7 linked regions of the Homo sapiens genome follow. The protein of the gene in region 1 purifies or fractionates together with the protein of each later gene. This does not show direct contact. Each region holds a gene or a part of one and is shown in the gene's direction. Other genes may lie near its edges. The genes, in order: FUS, ZC3H18, SF3B3, DDX17, HNRNPM, HNRNPR and HNRNPH1.

Region 1 (3,500 bases):
TAGTCCCAGCTACTGAGGAGGCTGAGGCGGGAGGATCCCTTGAATTCAGGAGTTTGGGGCTGCAGTGAGCTATGATGGTGCCTGTGAACAGCCACTGCATTCCAGCCTGGGCAGTGTGTTGAGGCCCCATCTCAAAAACATAAAAAAAAAAACAAAAAACAAAAATGTTTATTGGTTTGTGATTCTGTTTCCATTTATTTTCTTTGGCTTTTAATTTTTTTGACTCTTCTTATTTTCCATCAGCATGAAAGAGAGCATATTTTCTAAAGGAAGAACCAGTTTTAGGCCAATTCTGAAATGGAGAAAATGGTTTTGTTTGAAAATGTATGAAATCATGTGATACATAAGGAGGTGGGATTTGCCCCAAGGTCCTGAAGTGTAACTAAGAAAGGTGGTTGTCCTGTAGATACTGCACGCACAGCTGCATATTACAGTGCTGTTAACAGGGATCCTTGGGCCTGGGTTTAGAGGGTGGTGCTGGAGATGGTGTTGGGATTGGCGGGGTGAAATTGGAACTGTACTAAAGAGTTGGTAGAAGTTGAAGCATTAAATTTAGGCTTTGAAAGGAGGGTAACTATCTTTGCCTATGAGTTGCAACATCACTAACAGCTTCTGAGAGGCTGGCTTTATGAGTATAGGTATTATGTTTTCTTTAACCCATTCCTTACATTTTCTCTTTCCTGGTGGCTTTTGTGACTCCCTTTTTCTTATCCTGGTAGCAGGCTATGGAACTCAGTCAACTCCCCAGGGATATGGCTCGACTGGCGGCTATGGCAGTAGCCAGAGCTCCCAATCGTCTTACGGGCAGCAGTCCTCCTACCCTGGCTATGGCCAGCAGCCAGCTCCCAGCAGCACCTCGGGAAGGTACGGTGGTGTTGATGTCGGGGAAGGCTTGAAAAGAGGGGTGAATTGATGAGGAATGATAAAGGGACCAGCAGTAGGAGCAGTTCAGAGGTGTAATTGGGGTAGGGGAGCCTGTGTTGGGTACAGAGAATGGACTCCACTAAAAGTGAAAGGAAATTGGGGGCTATGCTGGGATTGTGATTGTGTTTTTTGTTTGTTTTCCCTAGTTACGGTAGCAGTTCTCAGAGCAGCAGCTATGGGCAGCCCCAGAGTGGGAGCTACAGCCAGCAGCCTAGCTATGGTGGACAGCAGCAAAGCTATGGACAGCAGCAAAGCTATAATCCCCCTCAGGGCTATGGACAGCAGAACCAGTACAACAGCAGCAGTGGTGGTGGAGGTGGAGGTGGAGGTGGAGGTGAGATGTCTTCAGCTTTGTCTGCAGCCCATTTTCTTTTTCTTTTTTTTTTTTTTTTTGAGACGGAGTCTTGCTCTGTCTCTGTTGCTGAGGCTGGAGTGCAGTGGCACAATCTCGGCTCACTGCAAGCTCCGCCTTCCGGGTTCGCGCCAGTCTCCTGCCTCAGCCTCCCGAGTAGCTGGGACTACAGGCATCCGCCACCACGCCCGGCTAATTTTTTGTATTTTTAGTAGAGACGGGGTTTCACCATGTTAGCCAGGATGGTTTCGATCTCCTGACCTTGTGATCCGCCCGCCTTGGCCTCCCAAAGTGCTGGGATTACAGGCGTGAGCCACTGTGCCTGGTGTCTGCAGCCCATTTTCTATAAGGATTTGTATTCTCCTGTTTTAGCTTAAAAGAGGGTTCCTGTCTTGTTTCCTAGCTGTCTTTTTACTTTCTTTTGTCCTTCATTGCCTGGCACTTGTCAAACCTTTTCAAACCTTTTAGTGCTACTTTACAATCTTTTTGTTTTTTTTTTTTAATCATTCTTTCTTTTCTCACAGGTAACTATGGCCAAGATCAATCCTCCATGAGTAGTGGTGGTGGCAGTGGTGGCGGTTATGGCAATCAAGACCAGAGTGGTGGAGGTGGCAGCGGTGGCTATGGACAGCAGGACCGTGGAGGCCGCGGCAGGGGTGGCAGTGGTGGCGGCGGCGGCGGCGGCGGTGGTGGTTACAACCGCAGCAGTGGTGGCTATGAACCCAGAGGTCGTGGAGGTGGCCGTGGAGGCAGAGGTGGCATGGGGTAGGTGTCTCATGAGCCAGGGAGTATCTTTGGTGGGGAGTGTGGAGGATTGCATGAATCTCCCTGAAGCCAGTCCCTAGTGCATGGTTTAGTATTCTTGTTGTCTAGGGATCTGTGAGGGCTTTGATTTGGGGGCAGTGACTTTCTTTTTACATCCCCATTTTATTTTTGTGAGAACTTGGGAGCCTGAACTCCCATCCATACCACTGAATAGAGATTTTGAGTAATGATACTTGTTTCCAAAAAAAAAGAAACCATACATAGATACGTATGGATTGGAGTCATTAATATCCTAGGCAAGAAACATGGAAGTGAAGACTTCTTTCTCTGCAAGGGAAACCGATGATCCCACTCCTGGGAAATAGTAGGGAAACTTGGTATGTGTATTCCCATGTGTCCTCTAGGGAGTTGGTAATGGTTAACCTGACTTCAGCTTCCAGGAATTGGCTACTCTTCCCGTTTTCTATAGTCATTTGAATCCACGAGCTTGATTTGCACTAATTTGACCGACATTGATTTTGTGTGTGACTTGGTTTATGGGGCCAGCTGACTGAAGTAAGCAGACCTTTTGGGCAAAAATATGCTTTGACAGTGGTCTCCCACCTATTTGTTCCACTGTCTGCCTTCCCCTGGTTACTTAAAATTCATCAGCTTGTCCAACTGGACCTTCTTTCCTTCCTGCTGAAGTTGATTTGAAGTAAAACCTTAGATTTGATGTTAAAACAGTTGTCAAATCTGTTGGTAAATAAGATTTGAAGGACCCTACTCTGTCTCCCTTGAAAAAGGGGAGGAATGTCAGTGTTACTGTTTTTGGAAAAAGTAGATTTTTAAACCGAGTTTGGAAATGGTAAGTATGCAGAGGTGGGTGGGGGCAATCTCAAAAACGTGCAAAAATGAGGAAAACAAAAATGAGGAAATGTGTGCGTGTGTTTAATGCAAAACTTTAAAAAGAAAAACAACTGTTATGTGACTGTTAACTTGCTCTGCATTTTATGTGCCACAGGTATGAAAGGTGACATTGCAAAATACTCCGCTCTTCTCGCAGTGTAGAAGGGGTGACCCCGGGGGTTGGGGGAGATCAAAAACAGCTCAGTAGTTAGGACAGAGCTTAGCTAAGTTTGTCTTGCTTTAAGGGGAAGTTGCCTTTGGTTTTGACTTTTTATGGAATGGGGTTGGGTCTGCTTGCTGCTTTCAAAGCAAAAACCACAAAAATGTGTTCAAGGCTACCCCAGCCTGGTGTGAAATGTCTTCTGGGTAAATTGGGGTAGGGTTTTTAAACCAACTACTTGGTTGTCAACCACTTGCGACAAGAGGAAAAAAAAACATCTGCTCCATCGGAAGAACGACCAAGGAAAATGGGTTATTTTTTTTCCAGAGGAAATAGATAACGTAACCTTTTAAAGCAAAATCTTTATAAACTGTGTCTGAGAAATTGCACACGTGTGTGTGACATGCTCAA
Region 2 (3,500 bases), about 57 Mb from region 1:
GCAGACTCCCAGTCTTGAACAGTCAGTGCGTAGAGGCCTTAGCAGCCTTGGTGCTTTTCATCCTTGCTTTTGTTGCCTTGGGCTGCAGAAATGCTCTGTGCATCAAGCGCCCCTGTGATACTGTTTGGGGATCAGCTCCTTGACTTTCCCATTTTCAGCAGTGTATACCAGTTTAGGACTACCTTTAATAAAAAGACGAGGGTCTTACCATGTTATCTAGGCTGGACTCGAACTCTTGGGCTCGAGTGATTCTCCCACCTCAACCACACAAGTAGCCGGGATTCCAGGTACATGCCACCACTCCTGGCTTAGGACTGACTTTTTAATAATTCCTCCCAGTAGTCCTGTCTCTGGATAGTAACCGAATAGTGTACTTAGAAAACCAAAAAGTGAATCATTTTCAGAACTGTCTGCTTTTAAGTGACTTGGAATGGATTGGTTGGTTTGTAAATCTATGTTATTGCTAACCATTTAGGTTTTTTTTTTTGAGACGGAGTTTTGCTCTTTTTGCCCATGCTGGAGAGCAATGACACAATCTTGGCTCACTGCAACCTCCGCCCCCCCGAGTTCAAGCAATTCTCCTGCCTCAGCCTCCCGAGCAGCTGGGATTACAGATGCCCACCACCATGCCCAGCTAATGTTTTGTATATTTAGTAGAGACAAGGTTTCACCATTTTGACCGGGCTTGTCCTGAACTCCTGACCTCAGGTGATCCACCCGCGTCAGTCTTCCAAAGTGCTGGGATTACAGGCGTGAGCCACCACCCTTGGCCCATTTAGTTTTTATAAAGTGATGAATTTTAAATGATTTGAATTTTCTTTTGAGACGGAGTCTCGCTTAGCCACCACCTAGGCTGGAGTGCAGTGGTGTGATCTCGGCTCACTGCAACCACTGTCTCCCAGGTTCAAGCGATTCTCTCGTCTCAGCCTCCCAAGTAGCTTGGATAACAGGCACCTGCTATCATGCCCAGCTAATTTTTGTATTTTAGTAGAGACCGGGTTTCACCATGTTGGCCAGGCTGGTCTTGAACTCCTGACTTCGGATGATCCACCTGCCTTGGCCTCCCAAAGTGCTAGGATTACAGACGCGAGCCACCACGCCTGGCCAGATTTGGGTTTTTTTGGCTTTTTTGTTTTTTGTTTGAGTCAGGGTCTCACTCTGTCACCCAGGCTGAACTGCAGCCTCAACCTCCTAGGATCAGGTGATCCTCCTATCTCAGCCTCCCAAGTAGCTGGGACGACAGGTGCCCTACCACACCCAGCTAATTTTTTTTTTTTTTTTTTTTTTTTTTGGTAGAGATGGGGTTTTGCTATGTTGCCCAAGCTGGTCTAGAACTCCTGGACTCAAGTGATCCGCCCACCTCAGCCTCCCAAAGTGCTGGGATTACAGGCATGAACCACCGCACCTGACCAATTTGTTCTAATGTATCTTTTTTTTTTTTTTTTGAGACGGAGTCTCGCTCTGTCGCCCAGGCTGGAGTGCAATGGCGCGATCTCGGCTCACTCCAAGCCCCGCCCCCTGGGTTCACGCCATTCTCCTGCCTCAGCCTCCCGAGTAGCTGGGAACACAGGCACCCGCCACCACACCCGACTAATTTTTTGTATATTTAGTAGAGACGGGGTTTCACCGTGTTAGCCAGGATGGTCTCGATCTCCTGACCTCGTGATCCACCCGCCTCGGCCTCCCAAAGTGCTGGGATTACAGGCGTGAGCCACCGTGCCCGGCCTCTAATGTGTACTTAATCTTAATGATTTCCATTAACAGCAAAAAAAAAAAATGTTTAACTGTAGGTTGATACCAATTCTTGATACTGTGCATCTTTAAACAGGTTGTATTAAAAGTATAAATTTAAAAGATGAATATTTTTATCTTTAGTGTGTATGGTTATTTGAGATACAAGACATATAAATGTGTATGTGTATGACTTGCTGCGTCCGTAGTTATCTTGAGATGAATAATCTGTTTCCAGACCTTGCCGAGATGCCGAGCAGTGTGACCGTGACATACGTTATTTTAACAGCCTCACAGACTGAACAGTCAAGTGACCGCTGACCTGGCACTGTCCCTGCTGCTCCACACTCACTTGGTGGTGACTAGCTGCCCTGGTAGTGGTGGTGTGGCAAGTGTTTGCCAGGCAGGTGTTGCCGTTCTACACCTTCCTACCCGTCTTAACACCGTCCACTTTTAAAGCATGGGTAGCAGTGTACTTTCTATGAGTTTTTGAGGAGGGAAACTCGAAAATATTAACTTTATAATTTAATCTGGATTAGTAAAAATAGGAATGAAGTCTGAAGTGACCCCGTCTTTTTTTGTTTTTTGAGTTTTTTTTGGAGATTGGTCTCACTCTGTTGCCCAGGCTGAAGCACATTGATGCAGTCTTGGCTTACTGCAGCCTCCACCTCCTGGGCTTAAGCGATCCTCCTGCGTCAGACTCCCAAGTAGCTGGGAATATAGGCACGCACCACCACACTCTGTGACTTAGTTTTTGTTTGTTTGTTTGTTTTTGTTTTTGTTTTGAGACGGAGTCTCACTCTGTCGCCCAGGCTGGAGTGCGGTGGCGCGATCTCAGCTCACTGCAAGCTCTACCTCCTGGGTTCACGCCTTTCTCCTGCCTCAGCCTCCTGAATAGCTGGGACTACAGGCGCCTGCCACCACGTGCAGCTAAGTTTTTGTATTTTTCATAGAGACGGGGTTTCACCGTGTTAGCCAGGATGGTCTCGATCTCCTGACCTCATGATCCACCTGCCTCGGGCCTCCCAAAGTGCTGGGATTACAGGTGTGAGCCACCGCGCCTGGCCTGAATTTTAGTATTTTTTTTTTACAGAGACAGGGTCTCACCATGTTGCCCAGGCTGGTCTCGAACTGCTGGGCTCAAATGATCCTCCCGTTGCAACCTCCCAAAGTGCTGAGATTGTAGATGCGAGCCACCGTACCTGGCCAGCCTCGTCTTTTACATACGCGCGGTACTTAAGTGTGTCAAGTTTCCTGCCAGAGTTCTTTTCGACAGCAGCTACCTGTATGGGAAGAGGGGTTCTCAACTTAGGAGTGTGAGTTGCTGAGCGGGTGAACACAGCCCTCTCGACACCTGCTGGAGGGGCCAGTGAACACGCAGGCAGGGCTCTGAGCCTGCATTGCTAAAGGGCAGCCAAGGGATTCTCGGAGGCCCTCAGAGGCTGGCCTTCGAGAAGTGTGTTCAGTAACAGAAAAGGCTCCAGACTTGGACACTGCCGAAGGCTGGCCCAGGTTCCTGCTTCAGGATGACTCCAGAAAAATGGTGAGATCTGGGCCTGCAGTTTTGCTTCCTCGTTCCATGATACAGTTTATCTTTAATTTCAAAAGTAAATACTCCTCTAAGAATTCACACAGCTGTCCTTTGCGATCCGTATCGTTACTCACTTTCTGTTAACTCGTGTGGGCTGCCCTTGAGCGGGGAAGGGCTAGGCCAGGCTGCGTCTCCTTCTGCCACATCTCATTTTGCCAGATTGCCAAAAACGGGAGGC
Region 3 (3,500 bases), about 39 Mb from region 1:
GTGTTGCTCAGACTGGTCTTGAACTCCTGGCCTCAAGTGGTCCTCCTACATTGGCCTCCAAAAGTGCTGGTGGGAATGCAGGCATGAACCACCGTGCCTGGCCAGTTTTAATGTTTTATTAACTCTGTATATCTGAAATCATTCTAACATGTAGTTAATATAAAAATTGCTGAGCTATTTCACCTTTTTTTCTCTCTTTTTTAAACCAAGTCTGAAATCTGGTATTGGCACTTTACACTTAGCAGTCTTAGTTCTCTTTAAAATTTTATTTGTCTTTATTTAAAAAAAATTTCTTCCTTGACACAGAGTCTTGCTCTGTTGCCCAGGCTGGAGTGCAGTGGTGTGATCTCAGCTCACTGCAGCCTCTGCCTCCTGGGTTCAAGCGATTCTCATGCCTCAGCCTCCTGAGTAGCTGGGTTTATGGTGTGCACCACTACGCCCGGCTAATTTTTCTTGTTTCTAGTAGAGATGGGGTTTTGCCATGTTGCTCAGGCTGGTCTTGAACTCCTGAGCTCAAGCGATCCACCCGCCTTGGCCTCCCAAAGGGCTGGGATTACAGGTGTGAGACACCATGCCTGGTCCTGTCTCAGTTCTGACTAGCCACATGTGGCTTGGGGTAGCTATAGTATCGGATATTGCAGAAGAAGAAGTTGGTTAGATTCAGATTTAATTATTGGGGGAGGGGGACAGGAATACTTAATAGGTGGTGCTGTTTACTCCTGTTGCATCACGTCAGGAGGAGTGTAGTGTCTGGTTGTCCCACTCACAGTGATGTTGGGATGTTTGTCTGTATCTGTGTTAAAGTTCCCGTCAACCCTTTACTTACAGCTATTACACACATTGCCTAGGTTCATTCTTTCATTAGTGGTTGGAAAATGATTTATTTCTTTTTGGATTTAATTAGTTGGAATTCTAAAGACAAAATTCGCATCATTTCTTTGCTTACTATAAGTACGGTTCATACAGGAAAAGGATAAATAATTTTTTTCCCATTGTTCACCTGTTTTCAGAGTAAGGAGTGAGGGCCACAGCACTCCTTTCAGTGGGGCCCAGTAAAGTGGGTTTTTTGCTGTTTTTTAGAGTAACATTGGTCAGGTGCTGTGGCTCACACCTGTAATCCCAGCGCTTTGCGAGGCTGAGGTGGGTGGATTGCTTGAGCTCAGGAGTTCGAGACTAGCCTGGGCAACATGGCGAAACCTCATTTCCACCAAAAATACAAAAAATAGTTGGGAATGGTGGCTCATGCCTGTAGTCCCAGCTACTTGGGAAGCTGAAGTGGGAGGATTGCTTGAGCCTGGGAGGTGGAGGCTGCAGTGAGCCAAGATTGTGGCACTGTACTCCAGCCTGGGTGACAGAGTGAGAACCTGTCTCAATAAATAAATAAATAAAAATTTAAAAAAATAGAGTAACATCATAAACTTGTGGATTTTTATACATTTGTGCTGAAAACTCCTTTTTTTTTTTTTAAACAGAGACAGAGTCTCGCTATGTTGGCCAGGTTGGTCTTTAGCTCTTGGCCTCAAGCAGTCGTCCTTCCTTGGCTTCCACAGTGCTGTGATTACAGATGTGAGCCACCTCACCTGGCTTCTTTTTTTTTGAGGGGTGCGGGGGGGTGGTAAATTGACTCATTCTAGAAAAGTGGGAATTTCTATTTGAAGTTAGTTCTTTTGTCCTTTTAACATGACCCCACTATTTGTAGGGGTTTCCTTGCCTTGTTGCACAATAAAGTATCCCCACATGTGTCTGGAACATTCTTGCCCCTGCCCCAAACTAGTCATTCCTTTTAGGAACCTTGTTCCTTTAAGAGGAAATGCTGTTTAGGGACCATGGTCTTTGTGGTTATTTAATTATTTATTTGAAATATACAGTAGTGAAGAAGGATTTAATATACTTGGTAAAAAGAAATATTAAGAAGATATAGTGAAAAATAAGTGTGTATTTACTTAGTAGATGCTCCATAACTTTGGATGATTAAGTGATTTACTGAGAGAATGAAATGAATGGCTATCGGATTATTAGGATCTTTTTTAAACACCCAAGTCATTTCTTTCTATCTGCTCTAATTTCTTATGTGAAGTACCCAAGGGAGAGGTTTTCCCATCATAGCTGATAAGCTTCCATCAGGCTTCACCTGCTCCTCTCCTTTTGATTAGAACGGTGTGCTGCTGAGGACTGTCTTGGACCCTGTCACTGGGGATTTGTCTGATACTCGCACTCGGTACCTGGGGTCCCGTCCTGTGAAGCTCTTCCGAGTCCGAATGCAAGGCCAGGAGGCAGTAAGTAATGAAGGTTGGGGACAGGCAACATCTTTGGGATTTTAGTGGCACCATCTGAGAACAATCTTTGCTGTAAGCTTCACTGTCACTAATTTGCCACTCCATCTTGATTGGTTTCCTTCATGTGAGAAGTCCTGAGTTTTCCTAACCTAGAGCTTCCTCACTGGGGCTCCATCGCACCATGTCATGATTTGGTTATAGCTGGGTAGAGATATCGATCCCTTTAGCCCTCTGGCTGGTCAAATAGGGCTGGAAACCTCCCCTCTAGGACACCACTAGCCATGAGAATTCTCAGGTTTTATCCCAGTCTTAGATCAGTGTCACGTTTACTACCTAATGTGAAAGAGACTGGGAAACATTGTGTCCTTTGTAGTTAAGAATGTTAGTGTTTCTGGGCACTGTGCTAATTGATTCCATTTAATTCTGTTTTTTGTTGTTTTTTTTTTTGAGATGGAGTCTCACTCTGTCGCCCAGGCTGGAATGTAGTGGTGCAAGCTTGGCTCACTGCAACCTCCGCCTCCTGGGTTCAACCAATTGTCTTTCCTCAGCCTCCCGATTAGCTGGGATTACAGGCGCATGCCACCACGCCCAGCTAATTTTTGTATTTTTAGTAGAGATGAGGTTTCACTATGTTGGCCAGGTTGGCCTCGAACTCCTGACTTCAGGTGATCCGCCTGCCGTGGCCTCCCAAAGTGCTGGGATTACAGGCATGAGCCACCGCACCTGGCCTTCATTCCATTTAATTCTTGCAGCTGTCCAGCCTTGTGGTACTGTTTTCATTTTACACACGTGGAAGCAGGCTTAGAGAGATGAAATGGTGAGTCTAGATCATATGGCTCGTAGCCCATGCTTTTCACATATGCTAAGCCATAGTGCCTCTCTCTAGCCCTCTTTTTCTTAAGATAGCCTGTTATATTTCTAGAATATCTTAGGATACTCTGCAGACTGAAATTTGGGGATAGGGCTTTTGGTCAGCTTATACCATATTTGTATTTTTTCCCAAACCTTATTGGAGCTGGGTTTTTTTTTTCCCCTCAGGTATTGGCCATGTCAAGCCGCTCATGGTTGAGCTATTCTTACCAATCTCGCTTCCATCTCACCCCACTGTCTTACGAGACACTGGAATTTGCATCGGGTTTTGCCTCGGAACAGTGTCCCGAGGGCATTGTGGCCATCTCCACCAACACCCTACGGTGAGTGAGTCTCATGTTTGAAGCTCAGCAG
Region 4 (3,500 bases), on another chromosome or scaffold:
CATATTTTGTTTAAGAAATAAAATGTGGCCGGACACAGTGGCTCACGCCTGTAATCCCAGCACTTTGGGAGGCTGAGGTGGGCGGATCACCTGAGGTTGGGAGTTCGAGACCAGCCTGACCAACATGGAGAAACCCCGTCTCTACTAAAAATACAAAATTAGCCGGGCATGGTGGCATATGCCTGTAATCCCAGCTATTTGGGAGACTGAGGCAGGAGAATCGCTTGAACCCGGGAGGTGGAGGTTGCGGTGAGCTGAGATTGCGCCACTGCACTCCAGCCTCGGCAATAAGAGCGAAACTCCATCTCAAAAAAAAGAAAGAAAAATAAATAATATGCATACCTTTTGGGGGGAAATTCAGTTCTTTTCATTCTACATCTTTTGAACTTGTTTCCTACTGACCCCCAACTTTTGGTTGTGTCTCATTTGGGAAATAACTTTAAGGGGAAAAAAATCTAGCTCATATTAATTATGTAACAAATTGCCACACTCTCTTAACGGTATTTCATTATTAGTAGAGGTAACTATTGTGCTGCTGAATATGAGTGTAATAAAGATTTTCAAAAGAATCACTGTCAGTCATTACAAGAGCTTGGGATTTTCTGGCACCATTATTTGAAATTTTAACATGGTTATGTAAACAGATCAGATAGCAAGGAATGCTTATTTGATGATGATTATTGTTTGTTTTTACAGAGTTCCGTTCTGGAAAGGCACCCATCCTTATTGCTACAGATGTAGCCTCCCGTGGGCTAGGTTTGTATAGATAGGTGTCTCTGTCAATGGTATATGTATCTTTTGGTTTAAAGATTCGTCATTTCAAATTCAGACTTCAAGTTTAGAAAGTTGTATATACATGTGGTTAGATAAATATTTGAAAGAAAAAAATACAAAGCGTGATTCTCCCCATTCCCTGCCCCCCCCACAATTTTTTTTAACTTTGGTTTCCCCCACCCCCCTTTTATTTTCAAAGTCTCTTCCTGCTCCTAACAAACAGGCTTTGGTCTGCAGCAAGGCCTAGGCATGACTATTCAAACAGAGGGAGAGGAGACAGACAGCTGAATGGCTCAGCTTCTCTCTGGTGGTGGTTTCTGGCTGGATAGAATAAGCCTGACGAAACCTAGCTATTGTAAGCTAGTTTCTTCAGTTATTCTTTTCCCTATCCCTGTCTAAGCTAGATATATACAGAGAGGTCCAGTTTTATGAATGCTTATTAGATGGAATTTTATAAGTCTAATGCAGTATCAGAATAGCAAATATGTGTATTGCCCAGTTTAATTTACTGAGGTCAAATTATCATGGGCACTTGGCTATCCCCTCCTACCCATGCACTTATCTGTAGGTGTGTTATCAACTGATGATTTTCTGGAGTTTTTGACCCATTACCATTTAAGATATACAGAGAATTTTATGGTAGTTTAGCCCACTATTCTGAGCTAAACAGGTCTAACTCAGAACTTCTATATTTTAAAAAAAAAGATTATTTGTATTACAAGGAAATCCTTAAATTATTGACAGGTATTTAATTTGCCCAGTAAGGTGAGAAGTACCATATTATTCCCTTATACTATATAATATAAAGAGAACAGGTATTCAAACTGGAATACAAAAGTAATGAAGCCTTTTTATGCATTGCACTCATCATTCCCTCCTTCAGAGGTGGTGACCTGCAGCCATGATGGAAAGTTCTCTCTGCCCCTCTGCCCTCTGAGGTCATGTCTGGATCTGTGCCATTAGAACTTGGGCCTGTTGGGAGAGGAGGCGGAGGCCTGAAAGCAGTTTACATAAAGCTTTCAGTAATGGTTGGTTTTTAAACAGGCTTGCTATGTGCTGGTAGCTTCTTTGTGCATCTTGCCTAGACAATTAAAAATATTTGCTCCATGTCCCCTTGCATTTCTAAACCAAATTAATTGGCTACCATTAGAATAACTTAGACTCTTCATCCCACCCCCACTCATCCAAGTGAGGGGAGAGGGAAGGTACCCGAGTCTGTTTCTTGTTACTCAACATCAGTGCTTGTTTTGGGCCCCTTTGTTTGCTGCCTTGTAAAAAATCAAAAGAGGGAGAAAACCCACCAAAATGGCAGAATTCTGACCAATGTCCTACAAGATCCTGGAAAGTGAAGGCTTCTACCTCATAGACAGGGGTGCAATTTTCAGCTGAGTCACCAGGGCCTTTTTTCACTTCCTGTCAAGCGATGGTCTCTTAAATGTTCCCTTCAGGTAAGTTCTTTGATTCCCATAATTTTATAATAGTCATCCTTAGGCTACCACTTCCCTTTCCACTGGGATATTTTTTATTTTTCCTTTTTTTTGTTTGAACTACACACTGTTAAACTAAAAGTATTGAATTTATTTTGTTTTGTTTTTTAACAGAAGCTTTGATATCAGCTGCAGATCACTCAATACATGGCCGAGACAAATCTACATTGGCCGGAAGCAGCTCTAGATGAGCCTCTTGGCTAGACTTAGTCCCTCCTTATTAGTGATTGGCGATTCAGGCCATGTCATAGGGCCTTTCAGACAAAAGGTTCTTATCCCAGTCAGCTGGCCAAAACATTAACTTTGGATTTCTTACCCTGCTACAGCATCTTCTAGAAAGGCAGCAAGATAATATTGTGGCAGTGCACAGATAACATCAGGGTAGACTTGACTGGAGAAAACCAAATTCTGCGCTTGCTCCTGTGTGCCCCCATCCAGCTGTGCATGCACACACAGGACACCTTTCTAGTATGAAGAACTTGCATCATGTCTGCCCTCTATTGAGCACCCCCTTCTAGAAATACTTCCAAGTATTAGCATGTGAACTGTTGACTCCACCCTGGTGCTTTCTGCTAGGAAAGCACACTTAACGCATCCAGTGTAGTAATTGAACTTGTTCTACTGCCATGGTCATATGCAGTGGGATTGCATAAGGAGCATTATCCTAGCTCTGAAGATACCATGGAGTAGAATTCCCCACCCCCTGTCTTACATCCACCCTGGCCCTGTAAATTCTTTTTTCCTTTGTTGCGTCAACGACCCTAGCCGGAGACTCAAGCTGCCCCCTGTGATAAGTGCCTTCTCGTCTTTCTGGTGTGATTCAGGACTTTAGGGGTCAGTAAAGACCGAGGAGCCTTTATTGTAATAAGAAACAGACATAATGCCCCTTCTTCACAAGCCCTGTAACAACAGCTAATTTTTTTTTTTTAATCTCCCCTTTCTCCCTTGAAATTAATCCAGTCTGGGCAATAGATGCAGTCTGACCCTTTGGATGTAACTTACATTTTTTTTTATTAATTATTTTTTTCTACAATCACCCCAATTATCCTTGGGGGAGGCGTTGGAGGACCTGAAATTTTTACCCGAACCCAGGTTCTCCGGCGCTTGGCAACCAAATGGGGCTACAGAGAAGCATCTAAGCCAGTTCACAGAGCGAGCGTGTGTGGGGACTTCTCACTGCCACGGACCCTTGATGCATGCTCCCCGCGCTCCAGTGGTCCCGTGTCAGAAGGCGGAGTT
Region 5 (3,500 bases), on another chromosome or scaffold:
TTTTCAGGACATCACTTTTATACTATCACATCATCTAAACTTGAATATGTCCCTCCCCTTCCCCTTCCCCTTCCCTTGCCGAGACAGGGTCTCCCGCTGTTACCCCCGGCTGGAGTGTAGTGGTGCAATCATGGCTTACTGTACCCTTGACCTCCTGGAGCCAGACTGTCTTCTTTCTGCATAGCTGGGACCGCAGTTGTGCACCAACATACCTGGCTAATTTTTTGTATTTTTTTTGTAGGGACACGGTTTTGCCATGTTACCCAGGCTGGTCTCAAGACTCCTGGATTCAAGCACTCAGCTCACCTCAGCCTCCCAAACTGCTGGGACTGCAGGCATGAGCCACCATGGCCAGTCTGCTTGAATATGTGTCTCGAATGATATTTCTTTGAGGGTCATTCTCTACAAGTCTGTCAAGAATTAGTTGGTGGTGGTAGATTTCCAAAAAGGTCAATTTTTTAAAAGTTGGAAATGACAAGAGATAGTTCTAATCTCTTTACTGAGGAAACCTCTCAGAGGGAATGATTAGCCAGGGAAGGATTTGTTTGCAGAGGTGCTGTGCCCATTAAGCATGGTGAGAGCCGCTTTCTCAATGGTGAGTCATGTGATGTGGATTAACCCCAAACCAAATGCTCAGCTTCTGTGGTTAGATTGGATAGTTTATTCGTAGCCATGGTATGCACCTGTGGAATATAGGTTAGACACTTTGTTACCTGCTTTGGCTGTAATTATTTATTTATACATTTCGTAGTTTATAGGTGAGCTTAAGCAGTCTGGTGAAAGACTGGAAATAATTCATCATGGACTCTGTCAGAATGTTTTTTATTGTAAATCTTAAAGTATTTGGGACTTCAAAAGTAACAATATTAAAATTCATTTCCATCTGTGAATCCTCTGGTGGACCATGATGTGTAGATTCTGTTATGTTTTATGATTTTTTCTAACACAGTCGTCGTCATTTTCCAGGAAAGAGTAGGAGATGATTTGGCAGATAGATTTTGTTTGGCAGACTTTGGTGAAGGACTTTCTTTTGGAGTAGACAAGTGGCCTGGGTAACAGTTGTAGGTCTCCTGTGGGACCTGCTTTGTGGTGTGAAGCCAGTCTTGTGGACTCAGGTAGATTGCGTTCTAGGCATCTAGGGATTGGAGCTGCCATAACATCACCTTATCTGCCAGCCCGTGGGAAGGGAAGCCTGTTGATTGTGTATTGGTATAGTTGAGAGATCACAGAGGAAGCTGCTTTCCTTGGTTTTACCTTGTGTTGATTTGGGTGTGGCTCACACCAGTGATACCTCTGCTGGGATACCACTTGGCACTCTTGTGTTTGGGGACTACACAAAGTTGCTGACTTTAAAATTTTTCCAAGTAAATACGTTACTATTTTTGAGACAGGGTCTTGCTTTGTCAACCAGGCTGGAGTGCAGTGGTGCAATCATAGTTCACTGCAATCTTGACCTCCTGGACTGGAGCCATCCTCTCAGCTCAGCCTCCTGAGTAGCTGGGACTACAGGTGCACAACACCACACTCAGATAATTATTATTATTTTTAAAAATAAAGACAGGGTCTTATTTGTCGAACTCTTGGGTTTAAGTAAGATTCTCCTGCCTTGACCTCCCAAAGTGCTGGGATTATAGGTGTGAGCCACCATACCTGGTCTCAAGTGAATACTTTTGTTTGTTTGTTTGGAGACAGAGTCTCATTATGTCACTCAGGCTGGAGTGCAGTGGTGCGGTCTCAGCTCACTGCAACCTCCGCCCCCCGGGTTCAAGCGATTCTCCTGCCTCAGCCTCCTGAGAGGTGGGATTGCAGGCATGTGCCACCACGCCCAGCTAATTTTTGTATTTTTAGTAGAGATGGAGTTTCAGCATGTTGGCCAGGCTGGTCTTGAACTCCTGACCTCAAGTGATACACCTGCCTGAGCCTCCCAAAGTGCTGGGATTACAGATGGGAGTTACCACACCTGGCCTCAACTAAATAACATTTTAAAATAGTAGCTTCTCCAGCTACTATCTGGTGTTTCTTCCACGGAAGAAAGTTACATCCCAGAATAAAGATCGGCTCTTCAGTTAAAGATACTTTTATAAATCATTAATACTGTAGTCTTGGCTTTTTGGTTTTTTTTCCGGTTTTGTCATGGATTACAAATTCTGTAGTAGAGCCCGTGGTCTGGGAGTCACTGGATTCTCACTGGCGGGACACACAGGGCTGGGGAAGCAGAAGGTGCAAGGCTCAGTTGCTTAAGAAACTTGAGGTGGCTTCTGGCTCCTCACTTGTTCCTGATCAGCTCTAATCTGTGCCTCCCTGTAGTCAGAGGGGTTGCGCTTGAGCTGGCAGCTGAGGAAAGCGCCCTGTCAGCCAGTGCCCGGGCTTCCAAGCCTGATGGCTGCTACCTAGAGATGGTTAGTGTTAACAGTGTGGTGGCACCTAGCACACAAAGGTAAAGAGTGCAATGGGAAGGCCGTGCCAGAAAAGCAGCCACCCTTCTTTGCCAAAGGTGGGATTGTCTGCATGCTGTCTTCCACCTCCCAGGGTTGCTCAGACCCAAGTTTCCCAGCTTCAAAGTAGTAGGATTGTGTAGGGAGTGGTTTCTTTTCCACCTTTCTGGATTTTTAAAAAGTGGTTAAAATATACATAAAATAGACCATTTTAACCATCTTAAGTGTGCAGTGAAGTATGATGTTTTGCAGCAATCTGCACATTCCTGGAACTTTTATTCTCATCCCACATGAAATTCTATGCTCAGTATTTAATAACTTCCCATTTCTACCTCCCCCTAGGCCCAGGTAACCTCTGTTCTACTTTCTGTGTATGGATTTGCTTATTATAGGTATTTAATAAGTGGAATCATACAATATTTGGCCTTCAGTGACTGGCTTATTTCACTGAGCATAATGCCCTCAAGGTTCATGCATGTTGTAGCCTTTGTCAGGATTTCCTTCCTTTTTGTGGCTGAATAATATCCCATTGCATGGATAGTCCGTGTTTTGTTTATTCCATTCATCTATTGGTAGACACTTGGTTGTTTCTACCTTTTGGCTTGTGTGAGTAGTGCTGCTATGAACATTGGCATATGTGTATGAGTCCCTGCTTTTAATTCTTTTGGGTGTATACCTAGCAGTGGAATTGCTGGGTCATAGTAATTCTGTGTTTAATTTTGAGTGACTACCTAACTTTTCCATGGCGGCTGCATCATTTTATGCCCCCCCCCCCTTTTTTTTTTTAACACTATGAAAGACACTTATTTGTGAAGCTAAAATTGGATGGGCCTATGTGTACTACCTCATATTTCCATTCTATGAAGTCTTAGAAATCATCCCTCTCTTCTCCTGTTTCTGTCTTGGAATTAACACACCTTGGTCAGGGAGTTGGCCTCACCATTGTCTCTGTTACTGTCCGTAGGAGTATTTTGTGAGCCCAGGAAGGTGTACCTTTCCTTGGGAATGCTTTCTGCCCTGTGGAGCCTTGAGTTTGAATGTCTTAATTCAAAACCAACATTAGTC
Region 6 (3,500 bases), on another chromosome or scaffold:
GCTCTAAAATCAAATGCTTATGTTGGATTCTAATAAGGGGGTTTTATTTCAGGTATTTGTAGGCAAAATACCAAGGGATTTATATGAGGATGAGTTGGTGCCCCTTTTTGAGAAGGCCGGACCCATTTGGGATCTACGTCTTATGATGGATCCACTGTCCGGTCAGAATAGAGGGTATGCATTTATCACCTTCTGTGGAAAGGAAGCTGCACAGGAAGCCGTGAAACTGGTATGTGATAATTATCCACTGTCTTAGCAAGTCACTATTTGAGGAAATAAACTTTAATTCAAAAATGTTTGTAGTTAACATTATTTTGATTTCTTCAGTTGTTGCTTGGAATGTTTTTATACTGACCAAGTTGGTATGTGACGTTTATTTTTCTCTGACTATAAAAGTAAAAAAGAACTGAAAATACCCAAAAAGTAATGTTTTATAGAAAGTCTCCCATTGATTTAAGAAGTTATCTATTAGATTGATATCAGAAGTTTCATATGAGTATTTGGCTTATGCATTTCTGTCTTTTGGTTTTAGGCAAAAGGATGTCAATTCTTGATGTTAAACTTTAGGATTCTTAAAGTATAATGAAGACTGGAATGGGCTGTGGGGAACATAATAGTGGATGACAGTGACTTAGGATTCAATTCAGAAAATAGTTGTGAATCTGTTTTATTTTGGTTACAGCCTACTCATACGATTTATTTCATATTTTCTAAGTGTATTTTTGTTCTTCCTGTATGTTTCTTGGCCCTTGAGTCTTCTCTGTCTTTAATCTTTCTCTCCTCTCCTACTATTTATAGCCAGTCTCATATTAATTTCCTTTCTCTAGGGCCTTTAACCACTTGGTGCTCATTTCAGACCAGTAGTAGTAGCAACAAAGTTCTGCAAATCAAATGTATCTTCACTCCTGCTGTATTTAAGACACAGCTATCTCAGTATCTTAAAATAACAATGTAATTATTTTTTGGCATACCCTTGCCTGACTTCTGAGGACCTCACTAAGTCTAGTTCTAGCCTTTGTAGAATGGTCAACTTCTTTCATCAAGGCTTTGGTTTCATTACTGGTGTCTGAATTAGTTCCACTCCTAGCTTGACCCAGATTTTAGTTTTTATTATGGATTTTTTCTTCAAACTTGTTTATTTAATATTAAGTTTTCATTTTTGGCAGCATATGGATGATTTTATTTTTAATAATCATATCTCTTAGTAAACTAATGGTTAAATAATATTAAAGTATAAGAAGCTAAAATTGGCCAGGTGTGGTGGCTCACGCCTGTAATCCCAGCACTTTGGGAGGCTGAGGCAGGCAGATCACCTGAGGTCAGGAGTTCAAGATCAGCCTGGCCAACGTGGTGAAACCCTGTCTTTACTAAAAATACAAAAATTAGCTGGGCGTGGTGGCGCACGCCTGTAGTCCCAGCTACTTGGGAGGCTGAGGCAGGAGAATCACTTCAACCCAGGAGGTGGAGGTTGCAGTGAGCAAAGATCATGCTACTGCCCTCCAGCTTGGATGACAGAGCGAGACTCCATCTTAAGAAAAAAAAAAAAGGGCTACAATTTATCAAGAAAATCCACTATAGTGATTTAAATAAAACATTTTTCAAAATTTTATAAAATTTTGAAAGTATTGTGTTTGGTAGACAATTTAAAACTATATATTTAGAATTCTGTGACTTCTGTAGAATTTGAAATTTTTCTAATATCTTTGCATTGATTAAACATAGTTGTTACCCTTTACATATTGTTATTTTGAGTATGGCTTACCTATATGCAATTACATTTCCAAGGACCCTGAATGATCAGTCTCAGGTATTTTTTTCTGAAAAATCTGTGGAAAAACATTTTCAGATAGATAAAATTAAAATATGAAATAAGATATTTTAAACAATAAAGTGAGTCCTTTTTATATGGAAGAGTAGTGAAGGTTAACAAAACCAAACTAAAACAAGAGACTGTAACAATGAAGTTTAAAATATACATTCATATTATGGAAAGCATGAGGGAACTTGGTGAGTTGATGAAGCAGGGAGCGTTTGGCCTTAAATTGTTGAATTTTTTAGATTAAGATCAATTGTCCTGAGTTTGGGGTGGTTTTGGGGTCTCTGGTTCTTTTCTTATTGCAGTGTGACAGCTATGAAATTCGCCCTGGTAAACACCTTGGAGTGTGCATTTCTGTGGCAAACAACAGACTTTTTGTTGGATCCATTCCGAAGAATAAGACTAAAGAAAACATTTTGGAAGAATTCAGTAAAGTCACAGGTAAAACAAAAATGTATTTAGAAATTACTTTTGCGAAATATGTTGTACTACTTACAAGTGCTCAAAAAAACTGAGGGGTTGTATGTATTAAATTAAGAATTCAGGTCTGAAGTATCTAAATTGCTTCCTTTCTGCTTTATAGTGGTTTGGGTTTAAGCAAGTTCCCTTATATCCTTCATTTCTTGGAATGTCCCCTTCACTTCTTTGTCTTAATTGAACCTTGGCTTTTGCTGGAGCTTTTGCTCTATAGCCCTCAAGTGAATGCTTTTTTTCCCCTTGACAATTAGTGTATTTTAGGACCAAGAGGATGAAAGTTTTTACTCTCTCCCTGCTGCCTTGTCTAGATCAGATTTTTTTTTTTTTTGAGACGGAGTTTCGCTCTTGTTGCCTAGGCTGGAGTGCAATGGTACGATCTCGGCTCACTGCAACCTCCGCCTCCTTGGTTCAAGCAATTCTCCTGCCTCAGCCTCCCGAGTAGCTGGGACTAGCATGTGCCACCACGCCTGGCTAATTTTGTATTTTTAGTAGAGACGGGGTTTCTCTATGTTGGTCAGGCTAGTCTAGAACTCCCGACCTCTGGTGATCCTCCCGCCTCGGCCTCCCAAAGTGCTGGGATTACAGGCGTGAGCCACAGTGCCTGGCTGATCAGATTTTTTTAAATATCCAATTCTAAATCCATGGAATTGATTGAGAAGTAGATTTTATATCACAGTTCTATACACATTTATATATAACTGAAACAATTTAACAAAACTGTACTTTTATTTATTATACATGATTTATTTTGATATTTCTTATTCTATTTCATTTTTTAAAATGCCAATTGTGATCTAATACTACCTATGATTTAAAAACACTGCGTTAGACCGCTGCCTCCCCTTGTAAAAACCACTGTTTCTTTACATTTTTATCATCCAGACATATCCTTTCCCTTTTGTTGAAGCTGTCATTCGTTGCTCTTGTGGTTTCAGCCTTTCATTAATCTAAAGATTGCTTCTGGCTCACTGTCTTCCTCTTCTGCCCTAAATTGGCTTCTTTCTAATACCTTTAACATCTACATTGGTGAACCATCCAGGGCTTTAGACTCCTACCTACTTCTATGTCTACCTCATCTTTAGTCCTTTACTTCAGCTCCACCATATCCAGATTACATTCTGGATCTAGTCACCAGAAATTCTATGCACTCTGAACTCTTGATTTCTAGCGTCCCACTTTGTAACCACTGCTACCACCCGCTATATTG
Region 7 (3,497 bases), on another chromosome or scaffold:
GTTCAGAGTAGATCTTTCATTGAGGATTGCCCTCAACAGCTTAACTACTTTCCTCACATTGGTGTCCAGCTAAGTACCTCAAGTTAAAGGTAAGATCCCTTTACCAGCAGATCATCAGTGCGATGAATTAGGTTGTTGTAAATTATGGCAAGTGTCTGTGTTGCAAGAGACACGTATTTGGGTCATGTGACCAGAAGCATCTAATGGTCTAATTCTCTTTAATGCAAAAGTCGGTTTATGAAAGACTTGGTTTAACCTGTGTGGTATAAACTTACTGAAAATCAGATGTAGTGAGAGTAGTTTGAATGCTTGTAGTCTCAGTATCTGAAATAAGTGTTTTGAAATTGTTCCTGGGCCTAAAGTATTTGAATGTTTTTATGCTGAAGAGCTGATAAGATTGCATGTTTAACAATGTTAGATAAGATATCGTATATTTTAAGTATTAATATTTATGATGTGATACGCTGGAAGCAGGAAATCCTTTCATGGTTTAGTGTAGTATGTTAAAAATTGATATATGTATCGAGTCCTAATGTCAGAATTTTTAAAATCAAGTCTGTTTTGTTTTGACACTAAATTGGTGAGAATTGAATGCTGTCAACGTTAAATATGAACATAATTTCATATCTTCTAGGAAAGTGCTTTAAGTCCTTTTTGTAAGCTTGGGAATGTATCCACGGAAAGGATTTTTCATAGACGGAATTTCCAGAAGTGAATCATAACTACTGTTAGAGCATAAGCATGCATGATTGTGCTGTGTAGATCAGTTTTGTTGAAAGTTTAGATTGTTGTGTTTGTCAATTATAATTTAATGTTTCAGTTTTTATATGAAATGTTGTAAATGTATACCTTTTTAAAAACTTGAAGTTCCAATAACTTAAAGCATTGAAATATAAAATGAGGTAAAAGGTGTTTTGAATTTAGTAAAACTGTTATTTAATGCTTAAAACTTAATTGAATTGTATAATTCTCAACATTAAGTTGCATAGATATGTGTTCTTAAGTTGTTGAATTCTTAATGCATCCTGTGTTCAGCAAGTTTTTTTTAATATATACTGTACCATGGGTGTGTTAAGAATAGTTATACTTTATAATAATGGAACTTCATATTATTGCAATGCATATTTAAAGAGTACTTGTTGAAAGCATACCATTCACCTAAAGTTAAAAATTCTGGTTTATTTAAAGCTATAAGAAGAATCATTTCTGGGCTTGTGATGTTAATATTGCCCCCCTACTGGGGTTATTTGTCCTTGGGTTGAAGGGTTGGAAATCGTGCCAAATGGGATAACATTGCCGGTGGACTTCCAGGGGAGGAGTACGGGGGAGGCCTTCGTGCAGTTTGCTTCACAGGAAATAGCTGAAAAGGCTCTAAAGAAACACAAGGAAAGAATAGGGCACAGGTGGGGATGGATGGTTGGTTGGATATGTCACTTTTCTTATGGTAAACAATTAAATCCATATTCTCTCTGCTTAAAAGAAGAAATTAATGTTTTGTAGTCCTAGGTAATTGATGTTTTGCCATGATTTCCAAACTTGTGTCAGTCCCACGTTACACGCAAACTAAATTTTAGGTTTGAAATTTGTCCCTAGTTAATTGGTCTGCTTGACAATTTTGTGAGTCTTATTAACCCCAATCAATAGAGTTGAGAGACTATGGCTTTAAAAAATTAATGCAAACCTGGCTTTAGCTGTAATAACACCCACCTAGAATAAATTAATATTACCATAAGAAAATGTGATACTTTCTGATCTTGTTTTTAAAGTTGAAATGCAACAAACTTTTTCTTGCTGTATATAAATATTCTGCATAGTATTAATAAGCATAGCTTTCAAGAAATTGTCACAAAAGGTTTTATTCTCTTTGCTTGTGACTATTTTTCATTGAAGCATGCGCTTACCTATGCTGATTCTTACTAAAAGCATAGGCTGGGGTATTTATTGGCGAAAGGAAATGTGTAGTGTGGGCTGGACTGTTGGTGGAGGCTGGCTTTTTAGCCCACTTGCTATACATGCTGCCAATGGATTTAAGACTTGAAATGTTGAAAGTTGAGTGGAATTATTTCCCTCCTAAAACATTTATTTACAGTACTCCTCTCTACCCCTAAGGTTGGGCTCTGCCTCAGAGGAGTGAGTTTTTTTTTTTTTTCTATAAAGTTTACATTGTCTTACTATTTATTGAGTGAATTTCTGGTCATTGCCTATGCAAATATAAGAAATCTGGCTTTAAATATTAGTCAGTTTCATGGCTATGACTAGATTGTTTTCTTGTATAACTAAATACCTGTATAAAATGAACTAATGTTTTCTCTCCCCTCCCTACCCCTTCCTTATGAACAATGCTTTAGGTATATTGAAATCTTTAAGAGCAGTAGAGCTGAAGTTAGAACTCATTATGATCCACCACGAAAGCTTATGGCCATGCAGCGGCCAGGTCCTTATGACAGACCTGGGGCTGGTAGAGGGTATAACAGCATTGGCAGAGGAGCTGGCTTTGAGAGGATGAGGCGTGGTGCTTATGGTGGAGGTACGTGAGGATTCGTAAGGTTCGGCAAGTCGTCTGTTCCTTTGTCTAGGTGTTTTATTTGATTGATTGTACTTTGTCTTTCAGGCTATGGAGGCTATGATGATTACAATGGCTATAATGATGGCTATGGATTTGGGTCAGATAGATTTGGAAGAGGTAAGGTAAGAATTGAATTTCTCAGTTGAAGGATGCTTACACTCTTGTCCATCTAGACCTCAATTACTGTTTTTCAGGAATGTCTGATCACAGATACGGGGATGGTGGCTCTACTTTCCAGAGCACAACAGGACACTGTGTACACATGCGGGGATTACCTTACAGAGCTACTGAGAATGACATTTATAATGTAAGTGTGAGATGAACTCACAAGTCAATATTTCAGTATGGCAGTAAGTCAGCCTTATTCTATAAATGTGAGCACTATGTTAGAAATTTTAGGTTTTTTTTGTAACGTTAGAAAGTTGGTTGAATTCTTTGAAATGCCTTGTGTTGTAGTTTTTTTCACCGCTCAACCCTGTGAGAGTACACATTGAAATTGGTCCTGATGGCAGAGTAACTGGTGAAGCAGATGTCGAGTTCGCAACTCATGAAGATGCTGTGGCAGCTATGTCAAAAGACAAAGCAAATATGCGTAAGTGTGATTGAGCATTTGTGGGCTCTTAACAGGTGATTGTGTGACTAACATTTACAATAGAGAAATGGAAAAATAAGGATATATGAGAAGTTTCCTCTCCAGTAATAGATTAATTCTTGGGGGATGCGGGGGCAGTGTGTTGAAGGTTTGGGTTTTAAAAATTAGTATAACGGATTTGTGATATGCACATCTTGAAGTGTATATCCTTAATTGACAATACAGATGAATATGTAAAGGCTAGATTTTGGAGTTAAAGTAGATCACCTAAGAGAAGTAGCTAGAATTTCTTTGCCAAAGTATTTGAAGTTCACAGATCTGCTTGTTTAAAAACTTTAT

The links.
Region 2: the proteins of FUS (region 1) and ZC3H18 purify together in Homo sapiens (affinity purification with mass spectrometry; 3 studies listed by BioGRID and IntAct, with this or other methods). This does not show direct contact.
Region 3: the proteins of FUS (region 1) and SF3B3 purify together in Homo sapiens (affinity purification with mass spectrometry; 3 studies listed by BioGRID and IntAct, with this or other methods). This does not show direct contact.
Region 4: the proteins of FUS (region 1) and DDX17 purify together in Homo sapiens (affinity purification with mass spectrometry; 5 studies listed by BioGRID and IntAct, with this or other methods). This does not show direct contact.
Region 5: the proteins of FUS (region 1) and HNRNPM purify together in Homo sapiens (affinity purification with mass spectrometry; 4 studies listed by BioGRID and IntAct, with this or other methods). This does not show direct contact.
Region 6: the proteins of FUS (region 1) and HNRNPR purify together in Homo sapiens (affinity purification with mass spectrometry; 4 studies listed by BioGRID and IntAct, with this or other methods). This does not show direct contact.
Region 7: the proteins of FUS (region 1) and HNRNPH1 purify together in Homo sapiens (affinity purification with mass spectrometry; 4 studies listed by BioGRID and IntAct, with this or other methods). This does not show direct contact.

What each region holds. Positions count from the first base shown.
Region 1 is NC_000016.10:31,183,139-31,186,638, forward strand, and holds part of FUS (RNA-binding protein FUS), read left to right. Parts: intron 1-719; coding exon 720-864; intron 865-1,070; coding exon 1,071-1,258; intron 1,259-1,800; coding exon 1,801-2,041; intron 2,042-3,500. UniProt on the Homo sapiens protein: DNA/RNA-binding protein that plays a role in various cellular processes such as transcription regulation, RNA splicing, RNA transport, DNA repair and damage response. Binds to ssRNA containing the consensus sequence 5'-AGGUAA-3'.
Region 2 is NC_000016.10:88,573,403-88,576,902, forward strand, and holds part of ZC3H18 (zinc finger CCCH domain-containing protein 18), read left to right. Parts: intron 1-3,500.
Region 3 is NC_000016.10:70,558,316-70,561,815, forward strand, and holds part of SF3B3 (splicing factor 3B subunit 3), read left to right. Parts: intron 1-2,153; coding exon 2,154-2,276; intron 2,277-3,314; coding exon 3,315-3,469; intron 3,470-3,500. UniProt on the Homo sapiens protein: Component of the 17S U2 SnRNP complex of the spliceosome, a large ribonucleoprotein complex that removes introns from transcribed pre-mRNAs.
Region 4 is NC_000022.11:38,489,312-38,492,811, reverse strand, and holds part of DDX17 (probable ATP-dependent RNA helicase DDX17 isoform 1 precursor), read left to right. Parts: intron 1-696; coding exon 697-756; intron 757-3,500. UniProt on the Homo sapiens protein: As an RNA helicase, unwinds RNA and alters RNA structures through ATP binding and hydrolysis.
Region 5 is NC_000019.10:8,451,475-8,454,974, forward strand, and holds part of HNRNPM (heterogeneous nuclear ribonucleoprotein M), read left to right. Parts: intron 1-3,500. UniProt on the Homo sapiens protein: Pre-mRNA binding protein in vivo, binds avidly to poly(G) and poly(U) RNA homopolymers in vitro. Involved in splicing.
Region 6 is NC_000001.11:23,320,285-23,323,784, reverse strand, and holds part of HNRNPR (heterogeneous nuclear ribonucleoprotein R), read left to right. Parts: intron 1-52; coding exon 53-229; intron 230-2,121; coding exon 2,122-2,257; intron 2,258-3,500. UniProt on the Homo sapiens protein: Component of ribonucleosomes, which are complexes of at least 20 other different heterogeneous nuclear ribonucleoproteins (hnRNP). hnRNP play an important role in processing of precursor mRNA in the nucleus.
Region 7 is NC_000005.10:179,617,175-179,620,671, reverse strand, and holds part of HNRNPH1 (heterogeneous nuclear ribonucleoprotein H), read left to right. Parts: intron 1-1,264; coding exon 1,265-1,403; intron 1,404-2,348; coding exon 2,349-2,527; intron 2,528-2,611; coding exon 2,612-2,683; intron 2,684-2,739; coding exon 2,740-2,873; intron 2,874-3,022; coding exon 3,023-3,158; intron 3,159-3,497. UniProt on the Homo sapiens protein: This protein is a component of the heterogeneous nuclear ribonucleoprotein (hnRNP) complexes which provide the substrate for the processing events that pre-mRNAs undergo before becoming functional, translatable mRNAs in the cytoplasm.